Linked DNA regions of Homo sapiens: all the other regions are linked to region 2. The links come from fine-mapping of genetic effects on gene expression. A gene starts in region 2. Each other region holds a variant in brackets. All regions are shown on one strand. Distances are between the middles of the regions.

Region 1 (7,811 bases), 51 kb before region 2:
TCTTAACAGTATTGAGAGGTGGGGCCTTGAAGAGGTGATTGGATCATGAGGGCAGATTGATGTTACTTCAGGGCTGGGGCCACTATCTCAAGAGCAGGTTTGTTATAAAAGCAAGTTCAGCCCCTCACGTTTCTCTCTAGCTCTCCTGCCTTTCCTTCCACTTGGGATGTGGAGTACAAAGGCCCTTGCCAGGATGTGGGCCCTCCACCTTAGACTTCCCAGACTCAAATACAAAGAATAAATCTCTTTTCTTTATAAATTACCTAGTCTCTTTATAAATTATCCCGTTTCTATTATCCAGTTATAGAAACACAAAATGAACTAAGACACCGTCTAACTCAGAGTAAAAGCCAGCGGGCGCCTATAATCCCAGCACTTCGGGAGGCTGAGGCGGGCGGATCACCTTGTGCTCAGGAGTTCAAGACCAGCCTGGGCAACATGGTCAAACTCCATCTCTCCAAAAAAAATACAAAAATTAGCTGAGTGTGATGGCACATGCCTGTGGACCCAGCTAATCAGGACCACAGAGTTGGGAGGATCCCTTGAGCCCAGGAGGTCAAGGCTGCAGTGAGCCAAGATTGTGCCACCGCACTCCAGCCTGGGTGACACAGTGAGACCCTGTTTGAAAAACAAAAACAAAAAAAGAGTAAAAGCCAAAGACCTGCAAATGAACTTTGACGTCCTATGCAATACCTTCCCCCATTTCCACACCCCTCTCTGACCTCATGGCCCACTTCCTGCTCCCCAGTATCCCCCCACCCTCATCATGCTGTGATTACTGCCACACAGGCCTCCTCACTGTTCAACTATCCCTTGAACGTGCAGACAGACTCCCATCTCAGTTCTTTTTTTTTCCTTTTTTAAAGCCAAATTTAGCATTCAGGGGTTGTATACAAACTTTAGTGACACTAATGTTAATAAGTTCTGATAACCCACTACCACAGGACCAACCTGTTTTTTTGAGACAGGGTCTAGCCCTGTCACCCAGGATGGAGTGCAGTGACATGATCATAGCTCACTACAACCTTGACCTCCTGGGTTCCAGTGATCCTTCCGCCTCAGATTCCTGAGTAGCTGGGACTACAGGCATTTGCCACCACATCCAGCTGATTTTTTTCCTTTTTTATTAATTTATGTATTTATTTTTTGTAGAGATAGGATCTCACCATCTTGCCCAGGCCAGTCTTGAACTCCTGGCCTCAGGCAATCCTCCCAGCCCCACCTTCCAAAGTGCTGGGATTACAGGCATGAGCCATTTCACCAGGCCAAAAAGATGATGTTTTGACTCACTTAGACTAAATTTGTCTTGGCAAAGCAGTAAAAAGATCAACTCTCTTTGCTACTCATCAGATTAGAAAGAGATGAGAAGCCTGACAATTAGTGTTGGAGAGAAGTCTCACATGCCTGTGGAGGCAGCGCACATTAGATGGCAGCTGACAACCTCCGGCAGAGTTAAAGACGCGTAATTTTGGACCCACCAGGATTCTACTCCCAGGCATTTGCAGAGGGAGAAATTCTCCAACACACACAGAAGAGGCCATGTTCAAGGATGTTCATCATAGCAGTATTTGTAATAGTAAAAAATTATAAACAACTTAAATACCCATCAATGGGGGAATGGATAAATTGATATATTTCTAAAATGGAATGCTATATAGTACCTGAAATATATGAATTTAATCCACATGTACAAATCCCAAATGATAATGCCAAGAGGGGAAAAAAAAAAAAAAGGCAAGTGGCAGCCTTAGTACGATGTCTTTGGTGTACACTTGAACTTACACAAAACAACTGTATACGTTGTTGTTGTGGACACACAAACGTTTAAAAGTATAAAAGTACGACGGGAAGGAACCACACCAAGTTCAGAACAGAAGTTCCCTCTAGGGTAGGGGAGGAGGGAGCAGGGGAATTGGAGTGGGGAAGAGACCAAAGGAACCTCAACTGTATCTACAACATTTTATCTTTCAAAGAAAAAAGTTCTGGGGCAAATATGGCAAAATGTTCATATTCATTAAATCCAGATGGTGGTTTTTATGACTGTTTGTTATCTTCATCTCTAACCATTTTATATGTTTGATCTCTTTCATAATTGAACAATAATTTTAAGGGGAAGCAAAAGATCGTATCTTGAATAATGCAGGAAAGATTATAAATAATTATAAATTGAGCCTTGGGGCTTTTAGTTAACAGGGGTTAAAGCACTAAACGCTGGAAATCCATTATTTACAGACTTTAAAAATGAAAGAATATTTTAGAAATCTTTACTTCTATTGGGACTCTTTCTTTCCTAAGGCAACTCAACTAATGGTAGTTTTTAAACTATCTTGTTCTCCTGAACTGTAGCAGTTTTGAGCCTTTGGTCCTGACTCTTAGAGAATGGAACTTGAAGCCCATACATGGCCTGTTCAACAGAAGAAAGACCAAACTTTTTGATCTACACTTCAGGGCCGCAAAACTAAAACAATCAGATAAATTCTAAAGAAGGCTCAGAAGGAACAAAGGCAACTGGGAAGGCAGGAGAAACAGGGTAGATAAAACATCACCATGTTTTCTTTCTCCAGTGTCTTTTAAAATTGCAGTCCACTGCTTATATAACAGTAATCCATGTTATTCTATAGAGCTTTGTCTGGAGTTCCAGATCTAATGAGCAAGATACCACCCTGACATTATATAATGTAGGCATTTGGAATTGTAAAACCTTTCCAATTGATGCATAAAGAAAAATAACCGGCCGGGGCCACGCACAGTGGCTCACGCCTGTAATCCCAGCACTTCGGGAGGCCGAGGCAGGTGGATCACCTGAGGTCAGAAGTTTGAGACCAGCCTGGCCAACATGGTGAAACCCCATCTCTACTAAAAATATAACAAATTAGCCGGGTGTGGTGGCGGGCACCTGTAATCCCAGCTGCTTGGGAGGCTGAGGCAGGAGAATTTCTTGAACCTAGGAGGTGGAGGTTGCAGTGAGCCAAGATTGCACCATTGCACTCCAGCCTGGGCAACAGAGCGAGACTCCATCTCAAAAAATAAATAAATAAATAAATAACCGGCCAGGTGTGACAGCTCACACCTGTAATCCCAGCACTTTGGGAGGCTCAGGCATGCGGATCACTTGAGGGCAGGAGTTCAAGACCAGCCTGGCCAACATGGTGAGACCCCCGTCTCTATGAAAAATACAAAAATTAGCGAGGAGTGGTGGCGCAACTATAATCCCAGCTACTCGGGAGGCTGAGGCAGGAGAATTGCTTGAACCCGGGAGGTGGACGTTGCAGTGAGCCGAGATCGCACCACTGCACTCCAGCCTGGGCAACAGAGCGAGACTCTGTCTCAAGAGAAATAACCGTAACTATAGAAAGGAACAGATCCCATCCCCATCAAAGTACTTTCGACCTCTCAGCTTTTGCCTCCCATCTTAGACAAGGTTCCTAATGCGTATTAGGTCCAAATCCCCACTATCCACTACAAGAAGCTTAGGAAACCTGAGGCCCAGACTTCACACTCTGTCTCAGCAACACGAACAGATGACTCCGTACACGTACTCAAGTAATTTCTCCCCTGCTAATAGCCATGGAAAGTAATTGCATCCTAATCACTCCAAAACTCTGAGTGAGCATAAGCTTTGCTGGAAGAGGGAGAAGGGGGTCAATGTTTAAAATATAACTAAAGGTTACCAGATGAACAAAGTATTTCATTATTGAAGAAACTAATGGACTTATTGGGAGGGGGATGGGAAAGTCAAAATGTCCCCCTTTACTAAGTCTGGTAGATCTATTGAAATTTCTCAAAAAAAAAAAAATATATATATATATATATATTTATTTATAGTATGAGTGTGTATGTATATATGTGTGTGTGTGTGTATCTATGTGTATGTATATACATGTGTGTGTGTGTGTGTATATATATATATATATAT[T/ATATATATATATT]TGAGACAGGGTTTCACTCTGTCACCCCAAGCTGGAGTGCAGTGGCACAATCATGGCTCACTGCAGCCTCAACCTCCTGGGCTCAAGCAATCCTCTCACCTCAGCCTTCTAAAAGGCTGGGACTACAGGCACCAGCCACCAGACTCACCTAATTTTTTAAATTTTTTGTACAGATGAAGGGGGTCCCTATGTTGTTCAGGCTGATCTGGAACTCTTGAGCTCAGGCAATCCTCCCACCTCAGCCTCCCAAAGTGATGGGATTACAAGCATGAGCCACCACACTTGGTCTCAAAAATATAAATAACATATTTATATATAATATAAATACAAACAACATATTTCCTCTGAACTTATCCTCTACATAAATCTTGACAAGCATTTTAAAAATAAAATACAAACTAATAGGGTAGAAACTATAAAAGTTGTATACCAAACTATAATAAATAAAAAGATTTTTTTAAAAGAAAATATAGGCCGAGCACGGTGGCTCATGCCTGTAATCCCAACACTTTGGGAGGCTGAGGTGGGTGAATTGCTTGAGGTCAGGAGTTCGAGACCAGCCTCGCCAACAGGGTGAAACCCCATCTCTACTAAAAACACAAAAATTATCTGGTCGTGGTGGCAGGTGCCTGTAATCCCAGTTAATAAGGAGGCTGAGGCAGGAGAATTGCTTGAACCCAGGAGGCAGAGGTTGCAATAAGCCAAGACCGCACCACTGCACTCCAGCCTGGGTGACAGAATGAGACTCCGTTTCAAAAAAAAAGAAAATATAAAAGTATATCACACACAAAGGAAAGTATTATTTCACAAAAAGTTTTACCAAATAAATATACATGTATATATATTAATAGGTGCATATATGATATCTCCATATGTATATTGTATATACACATATGTGTATATCCATATGTGTATTGTATATACACATATGTGTATATATATCCATATGTGTATTGTATATACACATATGTGTATATATATATCCATATACTGTTTTAAAATAAATATACATACATATATATACACACACACACATATACTGTTTTAAGATATAAAATGTATGTCTTACTAAAGGTTGCAGTCAAAAAAGCTTGAGACTACTGGTCTACAACAATCCCATCTAAGGTAGGGTTTTAGATTAAACAAACACTACAGAACCTAATAAGCAAATACTACACTAGGGACTAATTTCATTCAGAGAAATGTCATCAGTTTATTATAATTTTTTTTATTTTTTTTTTTTCGAGATGGAATTTCGCTCTTGTTGCCCAGGCTGGAGTGCAATGGCACAATCTCGGCTCACCACAACCTCCGCCTCCCAGGTTCAAGCAATTCTCCTGCCTCAGCCTCCAGAGTAGCTGGGATTACAGGCATGCACCACCACGCCCAGCTAATGTTTTGTATTTTTAGTAGAGACGGGGTTTCTCCATGTTAAGGCTGGTCTCGAACACCTGACCTCAGGTGATCCGCCCACCTTGGCCTCCCAAAGTGCTGGGATTACAGGCGTAAGCCACTGCGCCCGGCCTATTATCATTATAAGTTAAGAAACTTCCCACATCTAGGTAACAATCTCTAGAGCTTAGATAAGAGGCATTCATTCATTTGACAAATATTTATTGAGCATCTATTATGTACTCTGCACTGGTTTTGGTGCTAGTGGTATACTGCTGAATAAAACAGAAGAAAAAATCCTTCTTTACAAGATTATCCTGGTAAAGAGTCAAGAAAGATTCCCTCCTAGCTCTAGTTGTGGGAAGTAACCATAGTGAAATAGGCCCAGAGCAATGGCCTACTCTCCAGGGAAGAAGACTTTACCAGAGCCTTATCCTACCTGGTGGAAGAGAAGTCCCCTGACTCCAGCCCTCTTTAGCCTTTCTGTTTCATCTAAGGGGAGAAAAACAGTTAAATATGAGTGACAGTCATAGCCTGGGACACAGGCCCACTAAAAGACTAGGATTTGACCATGAGGCTATAGAATGCTTCCCCTCCCCCATACTTTGCTGTCACACCAACAGGGCTCCAGTACAACAACAGGGAATTAGGGCTGAAAGGCATACACTCTATTTAAGAAGGAGTTTTTAGGGAAAACCAAAGATAACAGGGGAGACAGAAACAAGGACACTAGAGGAATTTGAAGCCTCAGATACCAACAGTTACAGCAATCATTAAACACAGACCAACTCTTAGCCAGATTAACATGAAACACCATACTAACAATACTAATGGACTATTTATCTCATTTCCTATTACCTAATACATCATGTCCAGCTTTCTTTTTTAAACAAGAACTAGGGAGGGGTAAGGAAGAGGAACTGATCAGCAGGAAGAAGGTCAATGTCTAGCTCTCAATGAAAAATTACAAAACACACTAAAAGGCAAGAAGAAACAGTGTGAAAAAGAAATAAAGCAAGCATCAGAACCTGACTCAGATAGGACAGATTTTAGAATAATCAAACAGGTAATGCAAAATAACTATGATTACTAGGTTCAGGGCTCTAATGGAAACAGCAGACAACACATGAGAATAGATGGGCAATGTAAGGAGAGATATAGCAACTATAAGAGTCAACAGAAAATGCTAGAAATCATAAACACTGTAATAGAAGTGAAGAATGCCTTGATGGGCTCATCAGTAGACAGGACATGGCTGATGGGGTTTAAGATACCTTACCCCAAAACATGACACCTTGGCATTTAAGAAAACAGGAAAAGCAGGAAGTCACTCTCAGCTTCCTCTCACCCTTCTCCCATAAAGCAGGTCATAAAGCCTATGAAAGATTTTCTGACCTTCCCCTGAAACGGGTCATATGACCCTCCTTTGAGAGATGCCCTCCTTATACCCCAAGGAAAGAAATATCCTTCTCTGAAAACAAAAGGACACAGAGAAGAATCTGAACAAATAGGACTTGTTAAATTTCCCCCAGTGTATTACCAGTCAATCATACCCCTTTTGTCCAATCGTATTTCTCCACGATTGTCCACTCTTCATCAAACCTAAACATAAATACACATTATCTGTTTCTCCAGGTCTTAGTCACGTAAATTTATATGATATAAATTTGCATGCTTTTCACTTTTTCTTTTCTTTTCTTTTTTTTTTTTTTTTGAGACAGTCTTGCTCTGTCACCCAGGCTGGAGTGCTGTGGCGTGATCTCAGCTCACTGCACCTCCACCTCCCAGATTCAAGTGATTCTCATGCCTCAGCCTCCTGAGTAGCTAGGGTTACAGGTACATGCCACCATGCCTGGCTAATTTTGGTATTTTTAGTAGAGATAGGATTTTACCAAGTTGTCCAGACTGGTCTTGAACTCCTAGGCTCAAGCCATCCTCCTGCCTTGGCCTCCCAAAGTGATGGGATTATAAACGTAAGCCACAGCACCTGGCCAAAATAGAAATTAAAAAGGCATGAACAGGAAGGTCTCACTGAGAAGGTGACATTTGAGCAAAGATCTGAAGAAGCTGAAGGAAGAAACTGAGAGTATCTGCAAAACATTCAGATAGATAAAAGGGTATGATGGCCAGCAGTGGTGGCTCATGCATGTAATCCCAGCACCTTAGGAGGCCAAGTCAGGTGGATCACTTGAATCCAGGAGTTCGAGACCAGCCTGAACAATAGGGCAAAACCTCGTCTCAACAAAAACCACAAAAATTAGCCATGGTGGCACATGCCTGTAGTCACAGTTACTCGGGAGGCTGAGGTGAGGTGGGAGGATCGCTTGAGCCTGGGAGGTCTAGGCTGCAGTGAGCTATGATCACGCCACTGCACTCCAGCTAGGTGACAGAGCAAGACCCTGTCTCAAAAAAAAAATGCTGTTGAGGTGACAGCATGTCTGGGGAATACAAGGAAGGAAAGAGGCCAATGTTGGGTGGAAATGTAAGATGGAAAGAATAACAA
Region 2 (7,811 bases):
GTCCTGTAGAATGTCCCACACTGTGATTTGACTGATGTTTCCCCATGATTTTAACTTCTATCTCCTGTGTTTCCCAATCAACCCACTTGGGTTTTTGTTTTTTCTTTTTGTTTTTAGATAGGGTGTCACTGTGCTGCCTAGGTTGGAGTGCAGTGGTACAGTCACAGCTCACTATAGCGTCGACTTCCCAGGCTCAGATGATCCACCCATCTCAGCCTCCTTAGTAGCTGGATCCACAGGTGCACACCACCACACCTAGCTAATTTTTAATTTTTTTAGAGATGGCAGAGGTGGGGGGGGTTGCGGGGGGGTCTCACTATGTTGCCCAGGCTGGTCTTGAACTCCTGGGCTCAAGCGATCCCCCTGCCTTGGCCTCCCAAAGTGCTGGGATTACAGGTATAAGCCACCGCACCTGGCCCCAAACAACCCACTTTTTTTATTCTCTCAGTTTTTGCCCTTATTTAATCCCCCACTCTTACTTCAGCCTCGTTAGGAACTTGAGTCTCTGGACCCCTCTACTTTTTCTCTGCCAATAAGCCCTTTCATAATGTTCGTCATCACTCCAACCACTCTACTTTTTAAAAATGGACTTTGTTGAGGAATAACATGCATACAATAAAATGCTTGTATTTAAAATGTACTTTTCAGCGGATTTTAATAAATACATACATCTGTGTAACTACCGCCACCATCAAGTCGCTCTCTTCTTCACAGCCCCCACTCTGTCTCCTCTCATCATGCTTTCCCAACCTACATCAATCCCTCAGACTCCCCCTCTCCTGGCACGCCTGGCTGCAGACCTGCAGGAGAGAACACACACGCCGACCTGCTGGAAACCTGTACATCAGTACTGCCCTCCCGAGGACCCTCGGTCTTTGTCCAGGCAGCAGTGCTCGCCCATGCTCCACAGCAGCTTTTTCTTTTTCTTTTTTTCTTGAGATGGAGTCTCGCTCTTGTTGCCCAGGCTGGAGTGCAGTGGCACAATCTCAGCTCACTGCAACCTCTGCCTCCTGAATTCAAGCGATTCTCGTGCCTCAGCCTCCCGAGTAGCTGGGACTGGAGGCGCCCACCACCACACCCAGCTCATGTTTTTGTATTTTTAGTGGAGACGGGGTTTCACCACATTGGCCAGGCTGGTCTCCAATTCCTGAGCTCAAGTGATCCACCCGCTTCAGTCTCCCAAAGTGCTGGGATTACAGGCCTGAGCCACTGTGCCCGGCCAGTAAGTTTCTTTTTTTCTTTTGAGACAGGATCTCCCTCTGTTGCCCAGGCTGGAGTGCAGTGGCATGATCTTGGTTCACTGCCACCTCAAATGTCTGTCTTTACCACTGTGTAGTAACAAATTTGGCCAGGAGTGGTGGCACATACCTGTAACTCCAGCACTTTGGGAGATCAAAGCGGGAGGATCACATGAGCCCAGGAGTTTGAGACCAGCTTGGGCAACATAGTGAGACCCTATCTCTACCAAAAAAATAAAAAAAAATTAGCCAGGCACGGTGGCATGCACCTGTCATCTCAGCTACTCAGGAGGCTGGGGCAGGAGGATTGCTTGACTCCAGAAGGTCGAGGCTGCAGTGAACTATCATCATGCCCCTGAGCCCCTAAATCCCAAATGATAGGAGTGTCCATCTTATTCATTGTGGGCTTCTCAGACCACTCCTGATGGTTTATGCTAATGAGATGACTTGGGATGGGCCCCTATATAGTTCATGTTAACAAGATGACTGAGGATGGGAACTGGCCATGCTGGAAACCAACGACCGAACACGACACTTGAGCTTTGTGGCTTTGAGCCCCACCTCTGGATGGGTCAGGGAGACTGGTGATTGAGAAAACAATCTCACTAGAAGAGTGAGAGATAGAATAGCCAGCACACTGCGGCCTCGATCTGAACCAGCTCAGGTCTTTCCAAACACTAGTGACATGTGGCTATCTAAATTTAATTAAAGCCAGGCGCAGTGGCACATGCCTGTAATCCTAGCACTTTGGGAGGCCGAGGTGGGCAGATCACCTGAGGTCAGGAGTTTGAGACCAGCCTGGCTAACATGGTGAAACTCATCTCTACGAATAATACAAAAAGTGGCTGACTGTGGTGGTGCATGCCCGTAGTCCTAGCTACTCAGGAAGCTGAGGCACAAGAATTGCTTAAACCCAGGAGATGGAGATTGCAGTGAGCCAAGATCCTGCCACTGCACTCCAGCCTGGGCGACACAGTGAAACCCCGCCTCAAAAAATAAATTTTTAAAAAATTAATTTAATTACAATTAAAACTTCACTTCCTCAGTCCACTGGCCACTTTTTTTTTTTTAATTTCCATTTTTTTTCTTTTATTGAGTCCACCACTGCGGCCTTGAATTCCTGGGCTCAAGCGATCTTTTTGCCTCAGATCCTGAGTAGCTGGGACACAGGCGCCTGCCACCACGCCTGGCTGCTGGCCACATTTCCAGTGCTCAATAGCTACTTGAAGCTTGTGGCTACCTTACTTGGGCAGCACAGATAGGGAAAGTTCTATTGGACAGGGCTGCCTACCTAGCCCTTTTTTAAAACGTCCTTTTATACTATTTTGTCAGATGGGGTCTCACTTTGTTGCTCAGGCTTTTCTCAAACTCTTGGGCTCAAGTGATCCTCCTGCCTCAGCCTCCCAAAGTAATTTGTAAATACGTGTAAATAATATAGTCCTCTCTTGTTGCATCAAAATGAATGCAAAAATGTCACGATGGGGCCGGGCGCGGTGGCTCATGCCTGTAATCCCAGCACTTCGGGAGGCCGAGGCGGTAGGATCACCTGAGGTCGGGAGTTGGAAACCAGTTTTCTGGTGCCTCCTTAACTTTTGCACTGGAGGGACAACGGAAGGGCCCTGTGTCATCCTCACCTCCCCCATCTGTGATTCTTCTGATGGTTAATTACCACTTTAAAGCTCTAGTTCTTTTTCCTTCACCTACTGAGAGTATATCTCCTTCTTTACAGTAACTTTTACTTTATAGAGTTTTTTTTGAGACGGAGTCTCACTTCGTCACCCAGGCGGGAGTGCAGTGGCACGATCTCGACCCACTGCAACCTCCGCCTTCCGGGTTCAAGCGATTCTCCTGCCTCAGCCTCCCGAGTAGCTGGGACTTACAGGCGCCCGCCATCACGCCCAGCTAATTTTTCAGTACAGACGGGGCTTCACCAGGTTGGCCAGGCTGGTCTCGAACTCCTGACCTCAGGTGATCCACCCACCTCGGCCTCCCATATTGCTGGGATTACAGGCGTGAGCCACCGCGCCTGGTCCCGTTTTGGCTATTCTTTAATATGCTTCCCTATAACTGCTATCTCCACACCAGCCTTGCCTTAGCTCATGGGAAACAAAACCAATTAGTTCCCCCATTACCTGCCTTGAGGAGCAGGGGTGGTGCAGTGGCATGCACCCAGGGAAGTGTGTTGTATGGGCCCCCAAGTGCAGAATCTGAATCTTGCAAAGGAAGAAACAAATTCGTCTCCACGGAGCATGTCTCCCCAGGACTCTCAGCCTTCCAAATCCGCAGTCACAGTGACTCAGCAGAATCTGAGCCTAGGGCACCACAGTAATCCGCATCCGGCTCTTTTTCTGCTCCATTTCGTGCCAAGGCTAAAAGGGCATGCCCACTTGATCCCTGGACTCTCTTGGGACGACTTCCACCCTGCATCCTCTTGCACCTCAGGGCACAGTGCGCAGATGGGCTTGCCTTAGCACCCCCAGCCAGATTTTTGAGGCCTCTGTCACACACACCCCTACAATCCCCTCCCCCAGCCCCGAGAGACTTTTCTTGACTTCCACCAGTTGCTCCGGCGGGTGAGAGTGGAGAGGCCCCTCCTTCATCCCCCAGGCTCCCTCCCTTCCTGGAGCTGCAGCCTCAGCATCCTCCGCCCAGCACCCCAGGATTCAGGCGTTGGGTCCCGCCCTTGTAGGCTGTCCACCTCAAACGGGCCGGACAGGATATATAAGAGAGAATGCACCGTGCACTACACACGCGACTCCCACAAGGTTGCAGCCGGAGCCGCCCAGCTCACCGAGAGCCTAGTTCCGGCCAGGGTCGCCCCGGCAACCACGAGCCCAGCCAATCAGCGCCCCGGACTGCACCAGAGCCATGGTCGGTGAGTGCTGCAAAGGGCGGGGTGCTTGGCGGTCGTCTCTCGAGCACTGGTGCCTGTGGAGGAGGTTGTAGGGGCTTGGCCCTGAATTTTGTTCCTTGACTCAAAACCCACAAAGGGAAGAGATTAGGGACCTGGGATGAGCCTTGATCGGACTCCGGGAGAAGGAGAGCTTCTGTTTGTATCCGGTGTCGCGGATCCTTCCTCACTCCACCCCACGAACTCTAGTGGGCATTTAGGAGAAACTTGACCTTGGAAGCAGAAATTCCCTCCAAAACTGTGGTCAGAAACTGGCCGTCAGAGGCCAAATCAGGCTTACGGTCACAGCCCATACCTCTTTTGGTCTATAGTATCTAAAACACTTTGAAATAAGTTGCTAACATTAAAATGGGTGATTTCACTTAAAAATGTGGATTCCGAGCTTCTGAAGAAAATGAGAATATCTGGCGATTGGTGGACAGGAGTGGAGGAAACTGATGCCTTTGGTTTGACGGAGACCAGAACCGGCTCCAGGCTGCCAGGCACAGGTTTTGTTTTGTTTTGTTTTGTTTTGTTTTGTTTGAGACGGAGTTTTGCTCTTGTCGCCCAGGCTGTAGTGCAATGGCGCTATCTCAGCTCAGCGAAACTTCCGCCTCCCGGGTTCAAGCGATTCTCCCATCTCAGCCTCCCGAGTAGCTGGGATTACAGGAGTGCGCCATCATGCGCGGCTAATTTTTATATTTTTAGTACAGACGGGTTTCGCCAAGTTGGCCAGCGCGGTCTTGAACTCCTGACCTCAGGTGATCCACCCACCTCAGCCTCCCCAAGTGCTGAGATTACTGACGTGAGCCACCGTGCCTGGCCTTGGGAGGCATTTTCCATTGAGGCCCTTGGATTAGGCAAACCTGATCAGATCGTACTGGATCCGTTTCTAGTATTGGGTCCACTTCAGTGATAGAGCCTTCCCACTCGGCCATCGACCCTAGGGGAACTCAGAGGTCACCCCAGCTCCACCCAAGGCATAAATAACCAGCTGAGACAACTGCAGGGATTGAGAGCTGTTTCCCAAATAATCTCACTCTGAGATTGGACAGTACTAAGATTTAGAAAGCTGTTGCCTCATCTGGGGCAGAATCCTGTGTTTTGTAATTTCCTTCCCTGTGGACCTGGTCCTGCCTCTAAAAATGCGCCTGTACACAAAGAAGCCCATCTTGGTCAAAGTGAGTGGAGGAACAGACTGCCCTTGCAGTTGACAAACTGAAATTATCAGGATCTCTGAGAAAGGGACTAAGCTGGGGATTGGTAGCCCAGCATGAGTTACTGGCAGAGACAGCAGGGAATAGATTCTGACAGCTGAGAGGCTTGCCGCATACACGGTGGTTGCTGTTTCCCTTGTATTTCATTCTTCAGCGTCGAGGCACTGGCACCCTCTCCTCCAATACTAGGGCAGGAACTATTTCCTGACTTTTCAATCTTACAGAATGTTCTGTATTTACGTGTAGCTTAAACACAAAAAAGGGCGGTGGTAATGAGGTGAAAAGGGAAGACTTGGATCTTGTATAATTAGTTTTAGCTGTACCCAGCTAACCAAATCTTGAGGTTAACTAAAGCATCCAGGTTTTTTGTTTGCAACTAATAGATGCATCTGATTTGCACTCATGTTCCCTGGAGCACTCAAGTGAGAAGAGAAGGCAGAAGGAGAATGCATGAAACTGATACAAAGGCTTATCTTTATCATACTTCTTTTTTTCTTTTTGAGACAGGGTCTTGCTTTGTTGCCCAGGCTGGAGTGCAGTGGCATGATCAGGGCTCACTTCAGCCTTGACCTCCTGGGCTCAAGTGATTGTCCCATCTTTGCCCCCGAGTAGCTGGGACTACAGGTGTGTGCCACCACACCCAGCTAATTTTTTTTGGTCAGAGCAGAAGAACTTGAAACCCAGCTAATTAAAAAAAAAAAAAATTTTGGCTGGGAGTGGTGGCTCATTCCTGTAATCCCAGCACTTTTGGGAGGCTGAGGCGGGAGGACTGCTTGAGGCCAGGAGTTCAAGACCAAGATTCAGCTCAAATGGCAAGCTCCTCTGAGGGCCTTTCCGAATGGGCCAGCCCTGAGGTCCTGAAGTTTTCCTCTGTTGAACTTTTTGAGATGGAGTCTCACTCACTCTGTTGCCCAGGCTGTAGTGCAGTGGCGTGATCTTGGCTCATTGCAATCTCCACTTCCCAGGTTCAAACGATTCTTGTGCTGCAGCCTCCCAAGTAGCTGGGATTACAGGCGCCCACCACCACGCCCAGCTAATTGTGTATTTTTAGTAGAGACGGGGTTTCACCATGTTGGCCAGGCTGGTCTCTAGCTCCTGACCTCAAGTAATCCACCCGCCTCGGTCTCCCAAAGTGCTACGATTACAGGCATGAGCCACCACACCCAGCCTTCTGTTGAACTTTGTCCCTTACCTCTCCTAACACACTAATGCCATTGTACCCTGAAGAGGTTATCCGTGTGTGCATCTTGTGGCCTCTCTCAGGGTAAACTCTAATAGTCTAACTCCTCCCAGGTCATGTTGCTCAGCTAGTTAAGTGGCAGGAAGGGAAAATGAACCCTCCAGGGCCCAGAAAACTTTTAAATTGCCTATTCACAAGCATCTTTTTGTTTGTTTGTTTGAGACAGAGGCTTGCTCTGTTGCGCAGGCTGGAGTGCAATGGTGCGATCTCGGCTCATTGCAACCTCCGCCTCCTGGATTCAAGCAATTCTCCTGCCTCAGCCTCCCGATTAGCTGGGATTACAGGCACCTGCCACTACACCTGGTTAATTTTTTTTTGTATTTTTAGTAGAGACGGGGTTTCACCATGTTAACCAGGCTGGTCTCTAACTCCTGACATGAGGTGATCTGCCCGCCTCAGCCTCCCAAAGTGCTGAGATTACAGGTGTGAGCCACCGCGACCCACCCACAACCTTCTTTTGATCATTTTTCTTTTGAGTTGTTTTGGGGATCTACCTATTCCAGGTACTGCACTTTGATGGTTATATTTGTTGCAAATATATTATTCCTGCTTGTGTGTTGCCTTACATGAAAAATTGTAAAGTCACAGGCCTGCTTATAGCTATTAGAGTCTGAGCTCCTTGAAAGAGCAAGAGATGGATATCCTGATTTGCTCATTTTCTGAGAAGTGCCTTGACTGTCTTACTACTTAGAAAATGCTTGTTAACATTGATGAGAAGTCAATAAAATAAAAACTGTTGGCTGGGCGCTGTGGCTCACGCCTGTAATCCCAGCAGTTTGGGAGGCCGAGACAGGCGGATCACGAGGTCAGGAAATCGAGACCATCCTGGCTAACACGGTGAAACCCCGTCTCTACTAAAAATACAATTAGCCGGGCGTGGCGGCGAGCGCCTGTAATCCCAGCTACTCTGGAGGCTGAGGCAGGAGAATGGCGTGAACCTGGGAGGCGGAGCTTGCAGTGAGCCGAGATCGCGCCACTGCACTCCAGCCTGGGCGACAGAGCGAAACTCTGTCTCAAAAAAACAAACAAACAAAAACTGTCAGAGCGGCGATCAGTAAACATTGATAAGACTAATGGCAAGGTAAGTTACAAAGAAAATGCCTGTTAGAGCTGAATATGCTCACTTCCCTCCCAATCATGTTAAATCCATGGGTTAAAGAGGTAGGAATTTGTTGAGGCAGCCTCAGAGCTTCCTTTTCCTTTTTCCAAGCTATCCCAAGCAAGTC
Region 3 (7,811 bases), 24 kb after region 2:
TGGCAGCCCCATCCTATTGTAGTCCCATCTTCAGATCAGTATTTTGCCCACATAAGCTTTTTTTGAACCAAAATATATAATTTGATATACTTATTACATTTCATTTGGTTATTGCTCATTTTCAGTGCCATTGAAGTCAATAAACACCAAAAGACAACTTTTATTCTTTTTTTCCTTTTTTTTTTTTTTTAGACAGTGTCAGTATCTGTTATCCAGGCTGGAGTGCAGTGGCATGATGATAGCTCACTGCAGCCTCAAACTCCTGGACTTAAGTGATCCTCTCACCTTAGCCGCCTGAATAGCTGGGACTATGGGCGCATGCCAACATGCCTGGCTAATTATTTTATGTTTTGTAGATACGAAGTCTCACTTTGTTGCCCAGGCTGGTCTTGAACTCCCGGGCTGGCTCAAGTGGTCCTCCTGCCTCGACCTCCCAAAGTGTTGGGATTACAGGCATGAGCCACCATGCTTGGCAAGGCATACTGTATTTAGAACAGAAGGATTGTTTAAAAAATAATAATAAATTTTATATATATGTATATATATATATAAAATCTCCTAACAACTCATTTAGATATATATATATAGATTTGGATGTATTAAGAATTGTTACTCCTTTACAGAATCAACAGATACTGTCTATATTTGATAGGAAGGTATAAGTATGCTGTCTAAAGCAATGTCTTTTACGATTCAATTAGATACCATATTCATGACACCCATGTATCTGTATTAGCATTTTTTTAAAAAATATTTTTCTTCCTTTTTCCTTTCATTTAAACATCAAAAAAAAAAAAATAGAGACAGGGTCTTGCTATGTTGCTCAGGCTGGTCTCCAACTCCTGGCCTCAAGTGATCCTCCTGTCTTAGCCTCCCGAGTAGCTGGGATTACAGAGGCATGAGCCACTGAGCCCAGTGATTTAATATTTTTCTTTAATTTGACTCACTTTTTCCCTCACTCTGGTAGGTAGACACATTATTATTTTTTTATTTTTTAGACAGAGTCTCGCCCCGTTGCCCAGGCTGGAGTGCAATGGTGCGATCTCTGCTCACTGCAACCTCCGTCTCCCGGGTTCAAACGATTCTCCTGCCTCTGTCTGCCAAGTAGCTGGGATTACAGGTGCCCGCCACTATGCCCAGCTATTTTTTGTATTTTTAGTAGAGATGGGGTTTCACTATGTTGGCCAGGCTGGTCTCGAACTCCTGACCTCAGGTGATCTGCCTGCCTCAGCCTCCCAAAGTGCTGGGATTACAGGCGTGAGCCGCTGAGCCCAGCCTATATTTTTTTCTATTACGCATCAAAACACTTATACATGTAAGTTTAAAAATAGTGTTTATCCACGTACCACGGGTAGTTGTGTACCACACTCTGATATGCGCTAATTTAGAGATGTAGAAATAACACCAAAAGAATAAACAGAGATTGTCTCTGGGCATGGGACTAAGGGATGGGGAGACTTGGTTTTCATCAAAAGCACCTCCGTGTATATGTATTGCTTTACTAAACATGAAACATTTAAATTATACGTAAAACAAAAATTCTGTCACACTGAGTCACTTATACTCTACCTGGCAAAATGGTAGGCACAAAATAACTACTCAGAAATATGTCTATATTTCACACCTCCTCCCTAATGATTTTATAATTTCAGCCATATACTCATGCTGCTCAAAACTGTCGTTCATGCACACAATTCCATTCACAAAGTTTGAGGAAAAAAAAGACAGCTATCCACTGCAAAATGAAAACTTTCAGTGTTTTATTTTTGACTGCAGCTGTTTACAGAAATATAGTTGCGAGTATACAAATGTTCCAATAGAAGCAAAATATCTTTTTAATATTTAACAAGTTATCACAGATAGCTAAAAACATAGATGCAAATGAAATTCCCCCAGAGAACAAACTGAAAATATCTGGTATCAGTGCTCTGAAATCCCAACTATGAAAGCCATATACACAAAAATGTAACCCTTATATCATTGCAGGACAATGGAAGAAGGCAGTTCAGTGGTTGATCAGTGTGCTCAAGCAAATAAAATTAAATAAAAATTAAAAATGGCAGAATGGTAGCTAAACCACTTGAGAACAGGTTAATGAAATTATTGGTACTATACTTAAAACATTAAGTAAAAGAAGTGAATGAAACTCATTTAAAGTTGTCAAAAAATTAGCAACTACTTGGAGCTTATCAATTAAAAGGAAACAAGGTAAGCAGACACATTCATTAGATCAAAAGAAATTAGATCAAGTTCACTGGAATCAGTCTGTAACTACTCAAGTCACAATGACTTCAGTGCAGGAGTTTTTTACTGGACACAGAAGTCTGATTCCAAGCCCACTCTTCAACAGCTGAGATTTTGTGTGCGTGTATGTATGTGTGTGTGTGTAGACGTTGTCCTGAGGTTCATCAGCTAAAATAATATAATAAGCAATCCCTACAAAATATTTCAAACCAGGCAAATGACTTCTGGAAGAGAGAGAAAGGAAGGGGAGAGGGAGGGAGAATATGAGTAAGCAAGCAGGGTCATATGGTTAAACATGGAATTTTTTAAAGGAGTTATTACAAGTGGGAGTCAAATAGAACTGTGGTAGAATGCTTTGGGTACAGGAATATGTTATGCAATAAAGTGAGGAAGAGAAAAAGGGAATAAGAAGGGAGGAATGTAACTAGAGCAGCTCCCAACAGTTTGCCTATGTATTTGCCAGCACCAAAATTTGTAGAGTAAGCCACTTACATTTCCACTGCTAGTATTAAGGAAAGACAGCAGTGGTGATTTTTATAAAGTGAGTATACATTTATTTTTATTCTGATATGTGAATTTTTCTTTCACGAGTTAATTAACTGGTAATTTGTAAACAGTGGGAAGAAGATTAGAACAATTATGGAGGTACTGAATTACACAAGGAGATTAAAATGAAATGAATCAATCTACCTATCTTGTGGTTAGTTTATATTTACCATGATGCATACACTTGAGAAACGAGAAATGCCCAAATTGTATAATGCATTATCTTGTTTATTATTTATTTTAGTAAATAATTCTTGTCTGAAACATAAGCTCCAAGGATAGCTATATCTATACTGATAGCTTAGTTCTTATACAAAGCAAGCTACTTTTGAAGAAGTTTTACCTATTAAAAAAATAAGTTAAGGTGCCATGTTGACCTGGCCAGCCATCTTGTTTACTATCTCAGATACAAATATAAATACAAGGAATGATGATTTTGTTCTGAGGGTTGGTCTAGCCAGGGCAAAACTGTGGTCTGCTGGTAAAGTACTAGGCAATGAAAAGAAAGCTTGTATTACACTGCCCATAATGTACCCATTTTATGGATAAACAGGAGACTTTAGCACCGGTCAATTATATTAGCTACTTAAATGTCATAACAATTAAAATAAACATAGAACATTGCACCTATATATTTAAATCAGTCATTTAATGTAAAC[C/T]TTTTAGTAAGTGGTAGGAAAATGCCAAACTAAATTAACTGAATTATCAAGAATTAGACTAATTGTGTATGTACATAAAATACACTGTATCTCTATAGGCAGTACTGAGAATTAACTTTTGCCAATAAAAGATTATAGATAACCAGGTTAAGCTGAATTTACATGAAGAACAATGTATAACTATATCAGTCTGAGTGGAAGAAAAACTCTATATCTCAACAGAGTCTTAGCCCAGTGGTTCCTAAACTTTAAAGTGTGCATCAGAATCACCTGGAGGGCTTGTGAAAACAGATTGCGGGGGCCCTATTCCAGAGTTTCTGACTCAGTATGTCTGGGATGGGGCCAAAGAATTTACATTTCTAACTAGTTCCCAGGTGATACTGATACTAGCTGGTGGGCTGAGAACCATACTCTGAGAACCACTGGTTGCACATACTACATATGTAGAAAAAGATATATTGTAATGTTCTTATATACATGGCACAAAATATATAGACAACTGGTTTTAATGAATTCCCAAACATGTAGGTTAGCAAGCTGAATGTTTCTAAAATGTGACGTTTCTAAAATGATGTGCTAAAGCATAATTATTTCCCCTTATAAGTAAATTACATTTCAAAGTCTTAAGTCCTATATAGTCATTTTAGAAAAATCCATATAACATTTATACCAAGTTGGCTATCCAAAAGAAAAGGGACATAACATTCTAAATAGTTAAGATGAATTCATTAGGAAGGAATCATCACTATACAGCATTCTTGGCTTCTTTGGAATGATTAAAGTGCATAATATCAATAGGGTATTAAGAATATTGCATAAAAGTTTGCAGTCCTCAGTGCCACTAACAGTCACAGAAATACTAGCACGGGGAAAGCAGCCCTATCCCAAAGGTAGAACTATCCTGACCTGTTGCTGATGATCCTTTCTTTAAGCACCACCGCTGTGGTAAGGAGCTGGAATAGAGGCAAAATTAACAAAAACCAAGGCACTCCATCTGACTGTATCTGATCAAAAGGAATTATCTTAGGTCTGGAGGGAGTCAGATATAACCTTTTTCTCATTTCCTTTGACACTTTTTGTCTAGGTAAATTAACTGAGGATAGACAAGAAGTACACTAACATAAACAACTTTGCCCTGTCTAGTTAAAAAAAAGTGGCATAATCAGGCTTTACCTAAACTATGTTTTAGTGATTTATTTCCATCTAATTAACATCAGAGAAAATGCTTTCAACACTTTCTTCCTGAAATTTACACACATCTGGTGCATGGAGTTTCACAGATGCTAAAATTCTCATGAGTATTCAGATAAGACCTACCATTAGCTGGTTGAGATGAAGACAAATTTAGTTTATATAAAGGCTGAACAGTCTAATTCTGTAATCTTTTACCCTCTCCCAAAGAAACAATTCTAGCAATGTACCTTTTCTTTTATTCTTAAGCCAAAGGGAAGAAATGGAGAAAAGAAGGTTTAAATGGAAAAAGTAAAAGCTGGGACCTACTGAAACTATTTGTTTATGTGTTTTTGGAAATAGTGAAAAATGAAATTATAAATGATAAAAAGGCACTTTTCCATAGCATTAGATCTAGATATAAAATATTAATTTAAAAAATTTCCTGAAAGAGAAAGTAAAAACATAATTTTATTAATAAATGAGGCTAGAATGGCATAAAAATAAATGGGGATTAAAGAAGTAATTAGGCCGGATGTGGTGGCTCATGCCTGTAATCCTAGCACTTTGGGACGCCGAGGCAGGTGGATCACTGGAGGTTAGGAGTTCGAAACCAGCCTGGCCAACATGGCAAAACCCCATCTCTACTAAAAAAATACAAAAAAAATTAGCCGGGCCTAGTGGAGGGTGCCTGTAATCCTGGCTACTTGGGAGGCTGAGGCAGGAGAATCGCTTGAACCTGGGAGGTGGAGGCTGCAGTGAGCTGAGATCGCACACTGCTCTAGCCTGAGAGACAGAGCAAGACTCCATCTCAAAAAAAAAAAAAGAAGTAAAGTAACTAGAGCACTGGGACCTGGGACCATCCACAAATGATATTGTAGATATTATTCTGATATTTACTGCATTATGAGCATTATCTCTACAATTTTGCTCTAGTGACACAAACAAGCAGAGAAGAAAACCTCTTTTTAATACATGTTATGAGATTCTACTAACCCACTTACTAGGGTATATACTATGAGTTATTTTTCTAACCTATGGTCTTTCTTCATGGAGTCCCTCCACACAGTCTAAGGCATGCAGATATAAGACAGCTGTCTCGGTTAGGGATAAAACCTGTGGTCATAAAGCAGAGGAAAGCTAATTAATTTAAAAAATCTATTAGGAAACAGATATTGGAACAGAAATCTTCATCAGAAAAATGAAAAATTGTAAGATTACTATTTCTGGTGAAAATGTATAACCATGGTGATTTGAGACTTTAATTATTAAATCGTTTTGTCCTGGTCATTATTTGTTGATGCATCTAACAGATTCACTTTCCTAAAACAAGCATTTATAAAGGCTTAAATGGTCAAAACGCATTTATAAAGGCTTAAATGGTCAAAAAGAATTATCTTAGTTCTGGAGGGACTCAGATACAACTTTCTCATTTCCTTTGATACTATTTTTCCTAGGTAGATTAGCTGAGGTTCTGATGAGCAAGAAATGCACTAGAATAAAATTCCAAACTACAGCACATGTGATATTACAAAAAATAAAAATAAAAGGCAAGGAAGGATGAATGGAAGAAAGGAAGGAAGGGAGAAAGGAGGGAGGGAGGAATAAGGGAAGGAGAAACAAAGAAGGCAGGGAGGAGGGGGAGATGGAAGGGAAGAAGGGAGGCAGGGAGGGGAGGAAAGGGAGGGAGGAAGGAAAGTCCTTCATTAATACTTCTTCTATAATAAAGCCCTTAAAAACTTGTTCTTTTTTTAAACTATTTGTTTTAAAACAGATTTGCATTGGCTAAATAACATGATACTTTAATCATAAAGGTAACATGATCAAGCTTAGAGGCAAAATATGACTTTGAATTATCGTCACCCATGTTGGTGTGGATATATAATGGAATGACAATAAGGAAACACACACACACACACACACACATACACACACACACACAGAGAGAGAGAGAGAGAGAGAGAAAGAGATAAGCTCCAAGCATTAATGTGAGTTGCTGAAAGCAAGAACACTTAAATGTAACAATATAAAGAAGAAAAGGTGGCTCACAGTTTATTTAGGTCCTTCTGCCATAAATACATTTAATAAATTGTTGTTTCTATGGCCTTTGCTGGCTCACTGAGTCTCTCCCATATGTAGCTATAACTTGTAACAGTAATCAGGAAATTGCATTATTAGCACAAATATCAACCACTGAGCTTCAAAGAAGATGAATACTCTTCGTAGCCAAATTGTATTTTCAGAATGTTGTACTTAACATTGACCTTTAGGGGTAAGGAACATTTAACAATGTAAAAAAAACAACAAACCTATTATTATTGAACAAGAATATGGTAGCATAGCACAGCCCTTGTATAAATAACCACAAAATTTATGAGAATAAAAATCGGGTTTTCTGTCTCCATCCGATCAAACCACTACAGTTCAGGTATATATTCTGTTCTAAACTTAGATATTATAAAACAGAAAATTGGTCCCAGTGACTTGGCATTGCCAATTAGCATTTGATAACAATAAACCTCTTGCTAAACCACAGAAGTCAGCACACAAGCCAGTCGCCACTTCATCCACAGTGCAGTATTAACAATCATCCTAATTAGAACTTGAACAGATAGATTTCTTTAGTCTCCTATGTAATCTCTTAGAAAAAAGTTCAGAAAATTCAAAAATAACTTACAGATTTGTATTTATACTACTTTTTATACCTGCTGGGTTTGCTTTGTCTGAAATTTCAACCAACCCTACTTTAGGGTTAGAATTTTACATTTTCAAACTGAAGCACTGGATTGTGTGGCTGATCCTCCTCATAACCTGAACTATACTGGGTAATTTTTCCCAATAGGGGCTGGGGGAGAAGAGATACACTGAGGAAAATACTTTTGGTTCAGAGAATTTATAAAGTAGCTCTGGATATTACAAGATGGGAAAAATGTTATTAAAATTACAAACATGGGTTTTCTTAGTGTCTTTATAAATAAAAGGCATAGAATACAGAAAGCCAATTAATAATAACAATAACAACAATAATAAAATATTAAATATATAGTGAGCAAAGACTGAATGGCTCATTCTTGTGAAACACCATTTGACGCCATTGCCTCAATGGGTTTCCTGACTCTAACACTTGGCTGAGTGAAAGCTCCAGCAAACACACAGTAAGCTGCCTTTAGCCCACTACTGACATCAAGGAAC

Which allele goes with the higher level. Alleles are on the strand shown, and positions count from the first base shown. SD is a standard deviation of normalised expression in the study named. Not every link is listed here.
In carriers of allele ATATATATATATT in region 1, the expression in lymphoblastoid cells of the gene that starts at base 3,986 in region 2 tends to be lower than with T alone (large effect, 1.5 SD a copy in GEUVADIS).

The links. PIP is the estimated chance that this variant, and not a neighbour inherited with it, causes the effect.
Region 1: its variant is the best candidate, but not a certain one, in a credible set for the expression of NQO1 in lymphoblastoid cells (GEUVADIS, PIP 0.64).
Region 3: its variant is the best candidate, but not a certain one, in a credible set for the expression of NQO1 in whole blood (TOPMed, PIP 0.52).

Annotation. Positions count from the first base shown.
Region 1 is chr16:69,774,178-69,781,988 of GRCh38, reverse strand. All of the region lies in intron 1 of WWP2 (WW domain containing E3 ubiquitin protein ligase 2), which reads right to left. Among named protein-coding and RNA genes, the nearest start is that of WWP2, 16 kb to the right of the region's middle. The variant T/ATATATATATATT (reference allele first, on the strand shown) is at 3,917.
Region 2 is chr16:69,722,735-69,730,545 of GRCh38, reverse strand. NQO1 (NAD(P)H quinone dehydrogenase 1) reads left to right here and starts at 3,986. Exons shown (of 6, transcript NM_000903.3): 1 at 3,986-4,113. The coding sequence starts at 4,107. It overlaps NQO1-DT (NQO1 divergent transcript), which reads right to left and starts at 3,819. Exons shown (of 2, transcript NR_186363.1): 1 at 3,371-3,819. RefSeq lists enhancers at 2,517-3,510, 3,719-3,978, 3,225-4,424, 3,511-4,503.
Region 3 is chr16:69,698,587-69,706,397 of GRCh38, reverse strand. It overlaps NFAT5 (nuclear factor of activated T cells 5), which reads right to left. Exons shown (of 15, transcript NM_138713.4): 15 at 1,744-7,811. Among named protein-coding and RNA genes, the nearest start is that of SNORD13H, 6.2 kb to the left of the region's middle. The variant C/T (reference allele first, on the strand shown) is at 3,450.